Homo sapiens: one gene and its partner. Each later gene encodes a partner of the first gene's protein in a complex. Each region holds a gene or a part of one and is shown on either strand. Other genes may lie near its edges. The genes, in order: PIGO and PIGF.

Region 1 (8,664 bases):
TAAATGTGTCAGGAGTAGAAACGGATAAATATTTTTCTCAAAAAGAAAAAAGATTTTTCTCCAGGGGCCTATTCATCCCCAGCTATAACTCCATTAGTAAGGCCTAGACCTTTGGCAAAGAGACATGTCTTCGGCCATGATCCTGATGCCCAAAGCTACACATTGAGTTAATCAAGATGGATGGAGCCTCTAGCTTCAGCAGAAGGCCTAGAGAAGACAGAATTCAGCCAGGAAAGAAGCTCTAAGATAAGAGCTTCTTCGAGATTCTCAGACACAAACCCACTCCCCCAGCCAATACCCCACACTCACTGGATCACCTGGTCCATCTGGCTAAGTTTCTTGGCCATTTCAGGGTGGTGAGGGCCATGCTTGTGGCCACAGTGGTCCACACCCAGGAAGTGAGCAATCAGCACGTCCCATTCACCACTGTCCACTGTGAAGGGGAGAACACTGAGCACAGAAGACTAAGACCCACTCCTCAACCCCAGCCAGGCTTTGACACTCCTCTATGTCCAGGGATACAAGCCCAGGCTGTTACACCCATAGGTGGCTCAGAATTTGTGGACTAAAGCAGTTCTCCCCAGCTCCCAGTCTTAGAACTAAGTGCTCTGGCCCCATGCTCACTGGTGGGGTAGAGGTGTTCCAGGATGCCATTGTCCACTGTGTCTAGGTCTCTGACATTGAAGGATGGGAAGAAGAAAGCTTTGGAGAAAGCACCAGGGAAAAGGTCTTTCCAGGTATCATCTCCCATGAAGACTACACGCCTTCCTGCAGGGACATGAAAGAGAAGTCAGAGCCTGAGCAAACGTCAGGGTTAGGAGAAAAGAGGAAAAGAGGCCCTTTAAAGACCCATCAGAAGTCCCAACCATGCAACCTAAAGTACAGCAATTCCATACAGCAATCCTTATCCTTCAGGGCCTAACATTTTCCACCAGGAAGCTTTCCCTGATAACCGTACTCCACCCAGACCTCACACTTATCCTTCCTACAAAATGCTCTCCTAGTTCTGTCTCTGGGTATCTCTACTGAGTTGTTTTTCCTGGGTGTATCCTGCTTCTTCCCAGTCAGTGAATGAACAGGGCCTGTATTTCTCTGCTTTCTTCTCCACACTTGCAAGCCAAGATCCACATCTTCTCTTCTTCCCTTCTCCCTTTTACTGAGAGGTCTCCAAGAATAAAACTTACACTCCATTCAGATTAGAAGCTTCATAGGAACAAAGCCCAGATCCCTTCTCCTCTGTCTCCCAAACTGAGCTCCCTACCAGCAGGGCCCTGGCCTCTTTCTTCTCCTCTGTCCCCCAAACTGAGCTCCCTACCAGCAGGGCCCTGGCCTCTTTCTTCTCCTCTGTCCCCCTACACCATAATCAAGTGTGCATCTGGGCACCCAAAGGTCTGACTCCCTGACTTCAAATTTTGAAGAAATTTGCCAAGGTACTTCTGGCCTTCAAAGTGGCCCACACTGACCTGCACTGGTGAGCTGCTTAATGAGATTGTCTTCCACTATGGCGTGGCTGGCGAAGTTACTACCAGCATCAATAAAGGTAGGCAGTGAGCCAGTGGTGAGGGCCTTGAGGCGCTGCATGGTGGTGGTAGGAGGGTCAACCTGAGATCGGTAGAGCCGGGCATGGTGGGGCTGAATCTCCAGGATCCTCTGCAAGGAGCTTAGTTTGCCCAGGAAGGGTAGGGAGACAGGAGGCTCTCTAGGCACGTGTGAATGCTGGGGCTGGGCGAAGTCAAATCGCAGAGCATCTATCAGCACCAACACAACCCGCGAAAATCGGGAAGCCATCCAGCAGGCCCCAGGTTTCCCTTGGCTCCCCCATGGCAGGGACCCAGGGCCTGGGGGCTCTTGGCAGCTGCTATGGTTGGTGAGCTCCAAACGGGTGAGCAGGAAGCCACTGGTGAAGAGGGCAATGCCAGCGTAGAAGAGGAAGCAGACCCAGGCCAGGAAGAGCAACACTGAGGCTTTCTGCATCCTGATAGGGGTGGGGAAGTAAATTCATTACTGTGGGGCAAAGAACCAGTGGATATTCTGGTCCCTGAATACAAGCCCAGCTAGAATCACTTCCTCCCGGAAACCTTCCTGGAGATAAACCATTTCACAGCCAACCCCTCGCAATATTACTCTCCTCCTATTTCCAGGCTGGGCATGGTGGCTCACGCCTGTAATCCCAGCACTTTGGGAGGCCGAGGCGGGCGGATCACCTGAGGTGAGGAGTTCGAGACCAGCCTGGCCAAAATGGCGAAACCCCGTCCCTACTAAAAATACAAAAATGGGTGGCGGGCACCTGTAGTCTCAGCTACTGGGGAGGCTGACGCAGGAGAATCGCTTGAATCGGGGAGGCGGAGGTTGCAGTGAGCCGAGATTGAACCACTGCACTAGAGTCTGGACAACAGAGGGAGACGCCGTTTCATGAGGTCCCACCCCAGATCTACTGAATCAGGATCTTCGAGGGGTAGAGCATAGGAACGTTCACATGTACAGGCAGGAAATGCTAATGCTGCCTGTACATGTGAACAGTCAGGAGGGAAACTTATTCCAATTGGTAGTCAGGCTCTCTTACACGCCGTTTCTGCGCCTCTCCCCTCGCCAATCTCAATACCCAGTGGAAAGGGATCGAAGCCGCAGGGGAATCCGGGCCCAGCCGACGGCGCCGCCTGGCGGGCACCGAGGGGACGAAGGGGAGGAGTCACTCTCCGCTTCCGGGCGGCCAGGTTCGCCAGGAGACCTGAGGCACGACCTTCGCCACGCAAGGAGGCTGGGGCCCGGGTCGAGAGTCGACTGGGCCTCCGCTGGGACCCAGGCGTGCGACCGGCTCTGCCTCCTCCGGTAACTACCCAGCCTCCCGCTGGGCACCCTAGCCGCGGTACTGAGCACCTTGGTTAGGAGCTGAGGGGAAGAGGGAGACTCCCTTACTTCAGGGTGAGGGGAATACCGGGGGGTGAGGTTCTCGGGAGACCCTGGCTCACCTGCAATGGCACCCGGAAGTGCGGCGGCGGCGGCGCCTGCGACCTGGCAGCACAGAGATGCGTGCGCCAGACAGAGTGGCCCGTCGGTGGCTCCATCGCCATCTGCCGGCACCTCGGTGGAAGTTTGGCCAGGAGCGTGGGGCTGGCCCCAGTTTGATGGGATATTTAGTAATTGAAAATTGGGGACAGGGGACCAAGCTGGAGGAAGAGTTCAGGGAACCACTGTCCATTCATGGTTACGACTAAGAGCACGGCTGCTGGAGTCAAACTTGACTTGAATCCTAGCTTGGCCGCACATATTGTCATCATTAGGCATTACCTCATCTGTAAAATGGAGATAATACTTATTTTCCCTTTTTTGCTTAGCTGAGTCCAACTGAGATTTCATTACTCCTCCTTTCAAAGCCTGTAACTAAATCTTACGACTGAATAATTAAGCAAATAATCCTTCGGAGTGGAGGAGGGGAGGCTGGGCCCAGTGGTTCACACCTGTAATCCCAGCACTTTGGGAGGTCAAGGCAGGTGGATCACCTAAGGTCAGGAGTTCAAGACCAGCCCGGCCAATATGACGAAACGCCGTCTCTACTGAAAATACAAAAGTTACCCGGGAGTGGTGGCGGGCGCCTGTGATCCCAGATACCTGGGAGGCTGAGGCAGGAGAATCACTCGAACCCAGGAGGCAGAGGTTGCAGTGAGCCGAGATTGCACCACTGCACTCCAGCCTGGGCAACAGAGCAAGACTCCCTCTCAAAAAAAAAAAAAAAAATGCCAGGCACGATGACTCACACCTGTAAGCCCAGCACTTTGGGAGGCTGAGGCTGGAGAATCAGTTGAAGTCAGGAATTGGAGACCAGCCTGGCCAACATGCTGAAACCCCAACTCTACTAAAAATTACAAAATTTAGCCAGGCGTGGCGATGTGTACCTGTAGTCCCAGCTACTGAGGAGGCTGAGACTGGACAATTGCTTGAAGCCAGGAGGCAGAGGCTACAGTGAGCTGAGATCGTGCTACTGCACTCCAGCCTAGGCAACAGAGCAAGACTCTGTCTCAAAAAGAAACAAAACCCGTCCACTGGTTTCTCATCTCAGAGTAAAAGTTCTTGCATTGGCTCTACATGGCCCTGCACACTATCTGCCTCTTCCCCTTCTGATTCATCTAGCTGCCACTTCTTTGCTTCCCTAACTCTGTTCCATCCACAGCAGTTCTGCCTCAGGACCTTTGCATTTGCCATCTCCTCTGTCAGCTTCAGTTCCCGATGCCGAAATGGATCTCCATCACCTTCATATTGAAGCTCAACTGTAACATCAGCAAGGCTTCCTGCAATCCCCTACTTTACTAGTTCAGCACCTCCCACCACCACACCCCCTGGAAAAATTTCCCCTCACTTCCTTAATTTCTTCCATAGCACAACTCATCAGCATCTGAAATTCTACACGTATTTATGGTTTATCCCCTCCGAGTAGAATGTGAGCTCATTGAGGTCAGGGAATTCTGTTTTCTTCATGATATCCTCAGCACCTAGCATATATTTGAGGTTCACATACTGACCAAACGAATAAAGGAATATGTTAATTTTTAAAAAAAGTTGAGTTATTCTTCCACCTTCATCCCCATAGCCCCTTATCTCAGTTCAGACCTCATCCCTTCTCCAGGATCACTGAGGCAGCCTTCTCACTGTCCTCCCAGCCTCCTGTGTCTCCCTACTATCCCTTCTCCACATTGCAGCAAGACAGCTCTAACTAAAACATTAATGTGATTACTGTTATTTTTTTCTTTTTTGTAGAGATAGGGTCTTACCATGTTGCCCAGGCTGGTCAACTCCTGGGCTCAAGTGATCCTCCCACCTCAGCCTCCCAAAGTGCTGGGATCACAGGTATGAGTCACTGTGCCTGGCCAATGTGATGTTTTATCTTAAAATTCTTCATGGGAAGGGAAAAAAACCCTTCATAGGCCGGGCACAGTGGCTCACGCCTGTAATCCCAGCACTTTGGGAGGCTCAGGCGGGCAGATCACGAGGTCTGGAGTTCGAGATCAGCCTGACCAACATGGTGAAACCCTGTCTCTACAAAAAACAAAAAAATTAGCCAGGTATGGTGGCGCATGCCTGTAATCCCAGCTACTAAGGAGGCTGAGGCAGGAGAATTGCTTGAACCCGGGAGGCGGAGGTTGCAGTGAGCCGAGATCATGCCATTGCACTCCAGCCTGGACAACAGAGGGAGACGCTGTCTCAAACAAACAAACAAAAAAACCCTATTACCCTAGGGATAATGTCCAACCCCTTCAACAAGAATCTCATTCCTTGTGACTTGGCCCTTGCCATGTAGTCACATCCCCCTTAACACTATACCCTTCAGCCAACTTCTCTCAAGCAGTGAGCCTTTGTTTATTCTAGTCCAGGACCTGACTTGGTGAAAACTTGCTAACTTTTCCAGCCTGAGTTCAGTGGCAATCAGCAACGCTGCTACTCATAAGCTGATATGCTCTTCCCACCAAGATCCCTCAGCCAGAACTTTCCTCTACCACAGCATTTATCACTTTTTTTTTTTTTTTTAACAGAGTGTCTCACTGTTGCCAGGCTGGAGTGCAATGGCGTGATCACGGCTCACTGCAGCCTCCACCTCCCAGGTTCATGCAATTCTCCTGCCTCAGCCTCCCAAGCAACTGGGACTACCCGCACATGCTACCACGCCCAGCTAGTTTTTGTATTTTTAGTAGACGGGGTTTCACCATATTGGCCAGGATGGTCTCAATCTCCTGACCTCATGATCTGCACACCTCAGCCTCCCAAAGTGCTGGGATTACGGGTGTTGAGCCACCACGCCCGGCCACATTTATCACTTTCTATCACTGTCTGCTTCCTGTCTGTTTTCCCTACCTGACCTTGTATTCTGTGAAAGCAGGGACCACTGGGTTTCAGGTATTTTTGTAATCCAGTGTCTAGTAATGAGCTTGGCACTTGGTAGACATTCAATGTTTTTGAATAAATGAATGAGGAGCACCCTCAGTCCCTGAAAACCCTTTAAGTATGCCAGTGCAGGGTAGTAGTTTCTCATGAAAGTACTTCTTTCCCACGAAAAAACCCCCAAACACCTGCCTCAAACACACAGCCCCACACTTAGCAGGAAGGGGACTTCACTTCCCAGCCAGCAGTTCAGTGAACATATGGTTTAACACTTCCACCCTATCCCACAGTTTCTCTTGAAGACAAAAATGATAGTTTCACTTTACAAGAAGTTCACTCTTATTCATGGAGGCATCATGCTGACAGGACTGGATCCAAGGAAAATGCTAGTGACTTTCCCAACTTCATTCCCCAATCAAAGAGGACAGTTTCTGGTTTGCCACTGGTGAGTTTATTACACGACTAAAGTTCAAATAAAAAAATAAAAACCAAAATCTTGGCAGGGAAGCTAGAGCCAGAATCAGGAAAATCTGCTTCCTTGTTCCCAGACTCCCTGGCCAAGCCCAGCTCCACTAACTCATCTTGACTCGATCAAGTTCCTCATCAAGACTTGCATCTGTACCCTGGACATCTCTGCTGCTCCCACTGGAGAGTGAGTCTGGAGTCCCTGGCACTGGGGCTTTGGTGAGGGCTCCATATACACCCATGGCCTGAGGAGAGGAACAGAGAGAATACCATGAGGACACTTGACAGAGGTGCAGCCCAGCCTACCAATGGCTAAACGGGAAAAGATGGCATGGGGGCCAGTAAGTTGGTTTTCCTTTCTCCCTCTCTCAAACCTGTCTTGTAAGCTCTGGAGTTGATTTTAGGAATCTTGCAAACCATCAGAGTAAAGTGACTCTCAGAATACCAGCACAAGTATCTACCAAAAAAAGGTATCTCAAGAACTTCCATATTTGCAGGACTGAGTGGAGATGTTTCATTCTTAGATTCCATCTCTACAAAGAATGAAGGGAGGTCTAGGGCCAAGGCACTCTGAAGACCTTTATGGTATGTAAGTGTTGATGACGGTGGTGGGGTCTCAGTTTGGTCCCTGGCACCAGTGCTCTATGCTGGGTCCTCAGAGAGCTCTAACCTGAGCCACCATGCTGGTGACATCGCCAGGGTTGGAGGGCAGTAGGATAGTGTTGGAGTCCTTGGCCAGTTTGGAGAACGCGCTGACATACTGCTCGGCCACAGTCAGTGAAGCTGCTGCATCTCCATTCTGTGATCACAGGGGGATAAAAATCAGAGATCACCGATACGGAGAAGAAGGGGGGGATGGGGAATGAAGAAAGCAGTTCACAATAAAAAGGACCATGTAATCTGGCTCAACAGAGCCCACAGAGGCGGAACTCTCCTCAAGCGTAGATAAGAGAACCCCTTCCACTGTCAATTCCTGTCCCCATTCCCACCCAGGGGCCTCTCACATGTTGTGTCAGAGCTGCAGCCAGGATTCGAATAGCTTCAGCTTTAGCCTTGGCCTTCGCCAGAACTGCACTGGCCTCTCCTGCAAGAGAAGGGACAGAGCTTGCTTGACCCATGAAGTCAAAGTACCCCAAAGATCCTGCCCCAGCACCAATCTTCAAAGGCCCATGCCTTGCTCCTCCCTCAGCCTCTACCCTCTCCTGACCTGCTGCCTGATTTATCTGTTCAGCCTTTTCTGCTTCGGAGGCCAGGATCTGGGCCTGTTTCTTCCCTTCTGCCACATTGATGGCCGACTCTCGGGTCCCCTCAGACTCTAGAACTGTGGCCCGTTTCCGCCGCTCTGCCTCCACCTGGAAGCCCACAACAATCCCAATCAACAAGCCAAGGGAGACTGATACAGACATGCAACTCTACCCATCATAACAGGAGGGAAGTCTGGATCCTCCTGGTACTGGAGCACCCTGAGGCCCTTTTCCCACCCCTCCTTGGCCCCCACCTGCATCTGCATAGACTCTTTCACCCGGGGTGGCACATGGATATCCTTGATCTCATAACGGAGGCAGCGGATACCCCAGCAGTCAGCAGCTTGGTTGATGGCATCCACAATGCTGGCATTCAGGGACTCCCGTTCCTGGAAAAAGAGGTGTAAGCCCCACAGCCTCAACCTACCTATCAAGGGCCTACACTGAGAAGGGCCTGGGACTGATCTTGACCTTCAGAAAAGATTAAGAGTGTCAGGTTTGTGTCTTCAAACCCTAACTCTGGCTCAGATCTGCTTACCCGGAAGACTTTGTCCAGAGAGAGTTTGCCGAGCTCTGATCTCATGGTTGTTTGAGCTAGCTGGGTGACGGCATACTCAGGGTCCTCCACACCGTAGCTTGCCTGAGATGGACACGGATAGTGTAAGAAGCTTGGGCACAAGATTTTAGTGAAGAGGGCAACTCAAAAGGCTGGATAAAGTAGGGGACAGGTACCTTGTAAGGGTCCATGATGCGCAGGTAAAGGACTCCATCGATTTGCAGAGTTACATTGTCTGTAGAACCAGGAGAGAAAACGGGGAAAGTCAGGCCTCTAGGTCCCAACCAGTTCTTTCTACTAAGCTCTGGATCTACAGCAACCACATCCTAATAGCCTCAGAGCACCCATGTCACCCTGAACCCCTCACCGAGAGTCACAGCCGACTGCTCAGGCACGTTGATGACAATTTCCTTGAGACTCTGCACATATCGGATCCGGTCTAACACAGGGATGAGGATGTTCAAACCCTGGAAAGAGGAGTCATGGGTCCTCAGAAGGCTGGGAACTATTGGGTTGGGACCTAAGCTA
Region 2 (8,600 bases), on another chromosome or scaffold:
CCCTATCCCTTATTAAAGGATATTTAGGTAATTTTCAATGCTGAAATGAGTAATCTTATATATTCAACATTTTGTAAGTGTGCAAGTATACCTACTGGTTAAAATCCAAGAAGTAGAATTGCTGGGTCGAAGAAGTATATTTGTAATTTTTACAGATAGTACCAAACTGCACTTTACAGAGTTTGAACACTGGAGCTTGCTTCTCAAACCCTTAACACTACCATGTGACCCAGCAATCCCGCTCCAAGGCATACCCAAGATAAATAAACACATATGTCCATAAAAAAACCTATACACAAATGTTTGATGCAGCTTATTCACAACAACCAAAATGCAAAATGTGGAAAGAACCTAGATGTCCATCAACTGATAAATGGGTAAACAAAATTTGATATATATCCATACAATGGAATATTATTCAGCCACAAAAAGGAATGAAGTACTGAAGCATGCTACAACATAGATAAACCTTGAAAACATTATGCTAAGTAAAAAAAGGCAGTCACAAAAGATCACATAAGACCCAATTTATAACAAATTTCCAGGATAGGCAAATCTATAGAGACAGTAAGTAGATTGGTGGTTGCAAAAAGTCATTGAATTGTATATTTTAAATAGATGATGTGTACGGTGTGTGAATTATATCTCAATACTGTTTTAAAAAATAACCACCTCCCAGCTACCTCAGTTTACTACGTGTCATGAGCCACACATACGCACATCTGGTGTTAATTTTCCCTCAGATTTCCAACAACCATCTCATCACTTCGCAATAACTCACAATAGGCAACCCTTCTCATGTCTATTTCCAGAAGCAAACCTTTACCAAGGAAACCTTTTCCAAGGAAAAGTGCTATGTTTATTGTAATATTTGGGTGCAGGCATACCTTTTAGATACTGCAGATTTGGTTCCAGACCACCAGAATAAAGCAAATTGTACAATAAAGTGAGTCATATGTATTTTCTGGTTTCCCAGTGCATATAAAAGTTATATTTCTACTGTATCATAGTCTATTAAGTGGGCAATAGCATTAGTTTTTTAAATGCACATGATTTAAAAATACTTTATTACTAAGAAATGTTAATAATTATCTGAGCCTTCAGCAAGTTGTAATCTTTTTGCTGGTGGAAGATGTGGCCTTGATGTTGACGGCTGCTGACTGATCAGGGTGGTGGTTGGGGAGGCTGTGGAAATTTCTTTTCTTTTTTTTTTTTAAGACTGAGTCTCGCTCTATCGCCCAGGCTGGAGTGCAGTGGCACAATCTCGGCTCGCTGCAACCTCTGCCTCCTGGGTTCAAGTGATTCTTGTGCCTCAGCCTCCCAAGTAGCTGGGATTACAGGGGCCTACCAGCACGCCCAGCTAATTTTTCTTGTATTTTTAGTAGAGACAGAGTTTCACCATGTTGGCCAGGCTGGTCTCAAACTCCTGACCTCAAGTGATCTGCCTGTCTCAGCCTCCCAAAGTGCTGGGATTACAGGCACGACCCACTGCGCCCAGCCGGCAATTTCTTAAAGTGAAATTTTAACCATGAAGTTGGTTGCATCAATTGACTCTTCCTTCCAGAAAAGATTGATCTGTAGCGTGCCATGCTGTTTGACAGCCTTTTACCCAGAGTAGACCTTCTTTCAAAATTGGAGTCAACCCTCTCAAACCCTGCCATTGCTTTGCTTTATTAACTAAGTTTATGCAATATCCTAAATCCTTTGTTGTCATTTCAACAATATTCATGGCATCTTCACCAGTAGATTCCATCTCAGGAGACCATTTTCTTTCTCATCCAGAAGTAATTCCTCATCTGTTCCAGTTTTATCATAATGTTGCAGCAATTCAGTCACATCTTCAGGCTCCTGTTCTAATTCTAGTTCTCTGGCTATTTCCACCACATCTGCAGTGGTTTCCTCCACTGAAGTCCTGAACCTCTCAACATCATTCATGAGGAATGGAATCAGCTTCTCGTCAATGTTGATATTTTTATCTCCTCCCTTGAATCACAAATGTCCTCAATGGCATCCATCTAGAATGGTCCTTTCCAGAAGGTTTTCAATTTACTTTTTCCAAATCCATCAGAGGAATCACTATCTATGGCAGCTATAGCCTTACAAAATGTGTTTCTTAAGTAATAAGACTTGAAAATCAAAATTACTCCTTGATCCGTGGGCTACAGAATGGATCTTGTGTTGTAGGCATGAAAAAAACATTAATATTCTTGTACATCTCCAACAGAGCTCTTGGGTGACTAGGCACATTGTCAATGAGCAGCAATATTTTGAAAGGATTTTTTTTTTCTGAGCAGTAGGTCTCAAAAGTGAGCTTAAAATATTCAGTAAACCATGTTATAAACAGATGTGCTGTCATCCAGACTTCGTTGTTCCATTGACAGTATATAGGCAAAGTAGATTTAGCATAATTCTTAAGGGCCCTAGGATTTGCAAAATGGTAAATTAGCATTGACTTCAACTAAAGTCTCTGGCTGCACTGGCCCCTAACAAGAGAGTCAGCCTGTCAAGCATTGAAGGTGGCCACTGACTTCTCCTCTCTAACTTTAAAAGTCCTAGATGGCATCTTCTTTCAATAGAAGGCTGTTTTGTCTACATTAAAAATCTGTTATTTAGCCACCTTCACCAACAATCTTAGCTAGATCTTCTGGATAACTTGCTCCAGCTTCTACATCAGCACTTGTTGCTTCACCTTGCACTTTTATGTGATGGCGATGGCCTCTTTCCTTAAGCCTCATGAATCAACCACTGCTAGTTTCAAACTTTTCTTCTGTAACTTTCTCACCTCTCTCAGCCTTCACAGAAATGAAGAGAGTGAGAGGCTTACTCTGGATTAGGATTTGGCTTAGAATGTTGTACCTGGTTTGATCTTTCATCCAGACCATAAAACTTTCTCCCCATCAGCAGTAAGGCTGTTCCACTTTCTTGTCACTCATGTGTTTACTAGAGTAGACTAAATTTCCTTTAAGAACTTTTCCTTTGCATTCACAACTTGGCTATTTGGCACAAGGGGCTTCACTTTTAGTCTGTCTCAGTTCTTGACAACTTAACTTTTTCATTAAGCTTAATCACTTCTAGCTTTTGATTTAAAGTGAGAGACAAGTAAAATTTTCCTTTCACTTGAACACTTAAGAGACCATAGTATGGTTATTAACTGGCCTAAATTTGATATTTTTGTATCTCAGGGAACAGGGACGGGAGAGAGAGGGAGGGTGGGGAAGGGAGAGAGACAGAGAGAACACGTTGGTAGGTGAAGCAGTCAGAAGATGTACAACATTTATTAAGATCGTCATCTTATATGGGTATGAGCCATGGTGCCCCAAAACAATTACAAAAAGTAACAGCAAAGACCACAGATCACCATAATAGATATAATAATAATGAAAAAGCTTGAAATATTGTGAGAGTTTCCAATGAAGAGAACACATGCTGTTGGAAAAACGGCGCTGATACATTTGCTTGATGCAGGGTTGCCACAAACCTTCAATTTATAAAAAACAGTATCTGATCTGAGCAATATCTGAGAAGTACAATAAAGTGAGGAACAATAAAATGAGGTATGCCTGTATTTTGTAACCATTTTAAACGTGTAAAACTGTGCTACCATTTTTATTAAGTTCCCATCTTCTCTCTACATGTCACTGATGAATTGTTTTAGTGTTATGACCTAACCCCATCTTTCCCATAAGCTCTGTGGTTTTTACTGCCCATTTTGTACAGCGTAGTGATTTTTAGGAACACACAGGCCACATTATAGCAGAACTAATTGTAAAATCACATGACAGTATTTCCCCCAAATACACCCATTATTAGACATAGACTTGAAAACTGGAGAAATCACTAATCCAAAGTAATAAGATTTCAATCCAATTTCACTATTTAAAAATTTCAAACTAAAAGGCTAAAAGCAATTAATACCATTTGGGATATTATGGTAATAATGTAGAAAATGCTTTCAGTTGTTACACTTCTGTTTTCTAGAGACTTTATGAATATTAGAAGACGGTTCCAAGGGAAAACAGTACTGATTCCTTTTTTTTTTTTTTTTTTTTTGAGACAGATTCTCACTATGTTGCCCAGGCTGGAGTCCAGTGGTGCGATCTCGGCTCACTGCAACCTCCGCCTCCTGGGTTCAAGCAATTCTCCTGCCTCAGCTTCCCAAGTAGCTGGGACTACAGGCACCCGCCACCACACCCAGCTAATTTTTGTATTTTTAGTAGAGATGGGGTTTCACCATGTTGGCCAGGCTGGTCTTGAACTCCTGACCTCAGGTGATCCACCCGCCTTGGCCTCCCAAAGTGCTGAGATTACAGGCGTGAGCCACCACACTCGTCCCAAACAGTACTGATTTCAAAGGGAATAAGTCGGTAATTTATGAAGCCAAGCTACTCAGCATGCATCTTTTGCTCTCATTGGGCTGTTACCTTTCAAATCACACAAAAATACCCTGTTCATTTCAGTTTCAATGCTTTTATCCATTCTCCTTGCACGAGGTGCCTTTCTCTTCCTTCTTGGTCTCACCAAATCATATACTCTTGACTTAAGTCCATCATAGATCATTCCCATCTCCCCCTCCATTCTTTACTGATGCTCTGTCCCTTTGAGTTCCTACACCACTTATTGCTGGATTTACACATTTGTAATCTGATGTTATTTGCTCATTTTTGTCCCTTGAACAGATAAGCTCCTCAGCAAAAGAATCCTCCTAATAAGGCCGGGTGTGGTGGCTCATACCTGTAATCCCAGCACTTTGGGAGGCGAGGCGGGCGGATCATGAGGTCGAGATCAAGACCATCCTGGCCAGTGTGGTGAAACCCTGTCTCTACTAAAAATAGAAAAATTAGCTGGGCATGGTGGCATGCACCTGTAGTCCCAGCTACTTGGGAGGCTGAGGCAGGAGAATCACTTGAACCTGGGAGATGGAGGTTGCAGTGAGCCGAAATCATGCCACTGCACTCCAGCCTGGCGACAGAGCGAGGTTCCATCTCAAAAAAAAAAAAAAAGATTCCTCCTAATACTTCAGAAACCACACACAGCTTAGCATAACACAATAACACAGAGCACAGACTAAGTGCTCAAGAAGTTCTTGCTGCTGGGTGATAAATAGGAAAGAATCAAATAACCTTCTGGCTTTCTTAGCTAGATCTCCACTATTTCTGGTGCATATCATTTAAATGACTTTCAAGAAGCTAAAATTTTAACTTAGCCATGCTGAAAATATATACGGCCACCAAGGAAATGAAATCTCATAAAACTTGAGCTCTGGTATCTTATCACAAAAAAGGCTAAACAAGAAATTATCATTGTTACACAACACATTTTTAGATTGTGGACCCCACTTCTACCTTATAAAATGTATGTAAGCAATTTTATTTACAGCAGTCTTATCACAGTGCCAAATTATCCCAGAACCATGGTTTTCAAGGCTTTCTTTTAATAGTAGAATTTTTTTTTATTTCTTCTTCTTCTTTTTTTTTTTAAACAAACAAAAGGCTAGGTGGAATTCTACCATACAGAAAAAAGGAGAGCTGATCTTGCTAACGTGGAGGGAGGGGCTTGTAGTTCTGCCTGCCCTGTCCCCAGTCCCTAATTGCAGTGACCCCTTAAGGCATCTCTGAGCACCATCAGCAATGAGAAGCACTCAGAATAATCAGCAAACTGCCATGAATAGAAAAATACTTCATTAATTATTTTTTAATTTCAATATCATTATAATATAAAATTAAAACTTACCCATTTCTACTGAACACTCTTAGCCATGCTTTGAGGTTTGGTCCTAACAAACATAAGCAAGGCACAGTAGTAAAAGTAGACAAAATAACTGCAAATAAAAATGTTTCCAATGCCAACCTAGAAAAAAAAAAAGATTACTTTTTAAAAAAGTGTTAAAGGTAAACATACACATACATAATCTTTATTATATAAATAAAATGTGAAATATCTTCCTATGCTTTACTTTGAAAGGTAACATGAATGCCACCAAAATGATGACTATAAATAATTTTACCACCAACATGTAGCTTTAAAAAACAATCTAGCAAGTATTTCGCTTTAATGATAGATTTCAGAAGTGTTAAAGACCCTAGGATCCATGCTGAGACTTTCACTGCAAACACAAACAAACAAACAAAATCCATTTCTAGATAGTTAGCTTTCTGCTCAATAGTCTCTCTGGAACTTTCTCTACAACTAGTGGTTCAATACACTATTGAACCACTATTGAACCACTATTGAATACTAGTTGTAGTGGTTCTCTACAACTAGTGGTTAACATATATTGGAAACACCTGGAGAGCTGGATAAACTAAAGATTGGTGGGGGCTCTACCCCTAGAGTTTCTGACTGAAGCTTGAGTATTTGCATTTTGATAAAATGCTGATGCTGCTGGTTTGAAAACCACATTTTGAGAACCACTGTGCCAGACACATTCATTCTGCTTTAAAATGGATTAGACAGGAACCACCATTTTCCATTACAAAGGTCTTGTTCTCTCCCATCTAGAAAAGAATAACCTGTCAGTTTAGTGTGTGTACGTAAAACTATGTATAAATATATATATATATATAAAATGGTATACTTAGCAACACAAATATATGTGTGTGTATATGTATATGTATCTCATCACTCATTTCACCATGATCATTAATCACTGCTAAACTGAAGCTTCTCAAACTATGATAAACATTATGTAAGAAACATTCATGAATTTTGTTTCTAAGAATTTGAAATTTGTCAGTTCAGAAAAAGTGTTAAATTTTACCTTTAAACTATAAACACCAGCTTATTCAGTATTTGAATACAGGAATCTATTGACTTTTGTTAAGAAAAACTCCATTCAAGTACTTTAGAATCACATTTATAAGAACTGATATGCTAATTATAACTTACACATATAATCATAGTAAGTTCTTTCAGAGGTTCTAAGGGCCAAATACTTATTGGTATAGTATAGTTTCTCTACTCTCCCTTCTCTCAACATGCAATTGGATACTAGAAGGCTAGGTAACAAGAGTATTTAATAAATTAAGTTATTCTGCTGTTTTTTTTAAAAAAGAATAACACTGCTAATGATGTTGGTGTCCTTACTTGATCTATTAATGATGCACATCATGGTTTTTCTCTAGTTGCTAAGAATTAGCACACAGTTTGGTAAATGAATGTTTTAAAATATAAATTTAGGGTAAAAATTTCAAACTTACTCTATCAGTGGTGCTCCATACAGAACAAAAATTACATGAAAGGAGAAACAAGACATAAGAAAGTAGATACAGCATTTCAAAAATCCAGTTACCTAAAAGAGAAATGAATAACCTGAAGATTCAAGATAATGCTTAAAGGACAATAAATTCTTCCATTTCATCTACAAACACAACTTGTTCCCATAATGTGTAAAACAGTTCAAATGTTCTTGGGTATACTCAAATCAGATCACATGTCCTGTACCGTCACATACACAGCCTTCGATACAGACTAAAAAAGCCTAAAAGGCAAATACCACCTTCCGCCCATATTCTACCCATCCGACCTACATGAGTCGAAAAGAGGTTCTGTTTCCATGGTAATATAGAGCTATGTCATTAATCAATATTTATCAAATACTGATTGACATCAGAGAGCTAGGATACAAAAAATACAGTATTATGCGATGATAGAGGAAATATCTGCAGAAAATAACAATTTTTTTCATTTTAAAACAAAATTCCTGGGAAAACTGCACTGAAAAAGCAAAATACTAAATAATTCTTGAAATCACACTCATATTACACAACCCGTATGAAAAAAGACCTGAACATCTACAAAGAAACATGAGATCTTCTTGATTTGGAGCTTAAGAATATATAAACATAACACATACATTCAGCTTTTCCAATCATAGGCAGTAAATGACCTAACAGAGCTTATACATGGTAGAAAATAATGTTAAGTGTGGACATTATTAGTAATAGCCAAGTGAATATCTACTGCAGTGAATATTCTGGAAAATTGATTCTAATATCTGAAAATTGTTTAGTCAAGGAAGGCCATGTTGGAAACAAGCATTACCACAGGCTTATATTGCAATTTCTGAAAATCCCACTAAGTGGCTTTCAGAAATGCAAAAATAATAAAAATAAACTGCAATGTCTTATTGAGTAAGGTTTAAAGATAGACTGTCACACGTATTTATTTTCAATGGTGACATAAAACAATGACTATATAGGCTCACAATATTATAATATGCTCTGAAGAAGTCATAATTCCATAATTAATGCAAGGCAAGGATCAATCAAACATTGTGGGCAGCCTTCCACCAAGTAACAGCCTACCAATTTGGGGGGAAAAATATCAGGTTCCCTTTGCTCACTATAAATAAGCTAATAAAGACTTGATGAATACTTTATTCTTCCATTAAAAGAAACACTAGCTCCATCCAAAAATCAGTTATTGAGACATAAGCCTTACCTTGTGTGATAATGAACTTCTTTTAGAGGATGTATTTGGTTTCACTACTAAATATAGTACTAGATTGACAGCAGTTACAAAACCAGAACAGATGCACAACCATGTCAAGTGTGTTTCCAATATTGAGAAGTTCTCCAAGAAGAGTGATGGAATGAAGACAC

What was found.
Region 2: PIGO (region 1) and PIGF share a complex: the UniProt entries of both Homo sapiens proteins name them as parts of the ethanolamine phosphate transferase 3 complex.

What each region holds. Positions count from the first base shown.
Region 1 is NC_000009.12:35,093,592-35,102,255, forward strand, and holds the start of PIGO (GPI ethanolamine phosphate transferase 3, catalytic subunit), read right to left. Parts: upstream 3,001-8,664; 5' UTR 2,564-3,000; intron 2,386-2,563; exon of another isoform or gene 2,288-2,385; intron 1,976-2,287; 5' UTR 1,975-1,975; coding exon 1,464-1,974; intron 769-1,463; coding exon 625-768; intron 434-624; coding exon 310-433; intron 1-309. Other genes in the region: STOML2 (stomatin-like protein 2, mitochondrial), read right to left, coding at 6,444-6,581, 7,007-7,135, 7,341-7,420, 7,544-7,688, 7,835-7,969, 8,119-8,220, 8,313-8,371, 8,504-8,603.
Region 2 is NC_000002.12:46,606,498-46,615,097, forward strand, and holds part of PIGF (GPI ethanolamine phosphate transferase, stabilizing subunit), read right to left. Parts: coding exon 8,440-8,600; intron 7,289-8,439; coding exon 7,197-7,288; intron 5,848-7,196; coding exon 5,731-5,847; intron 1-5,730.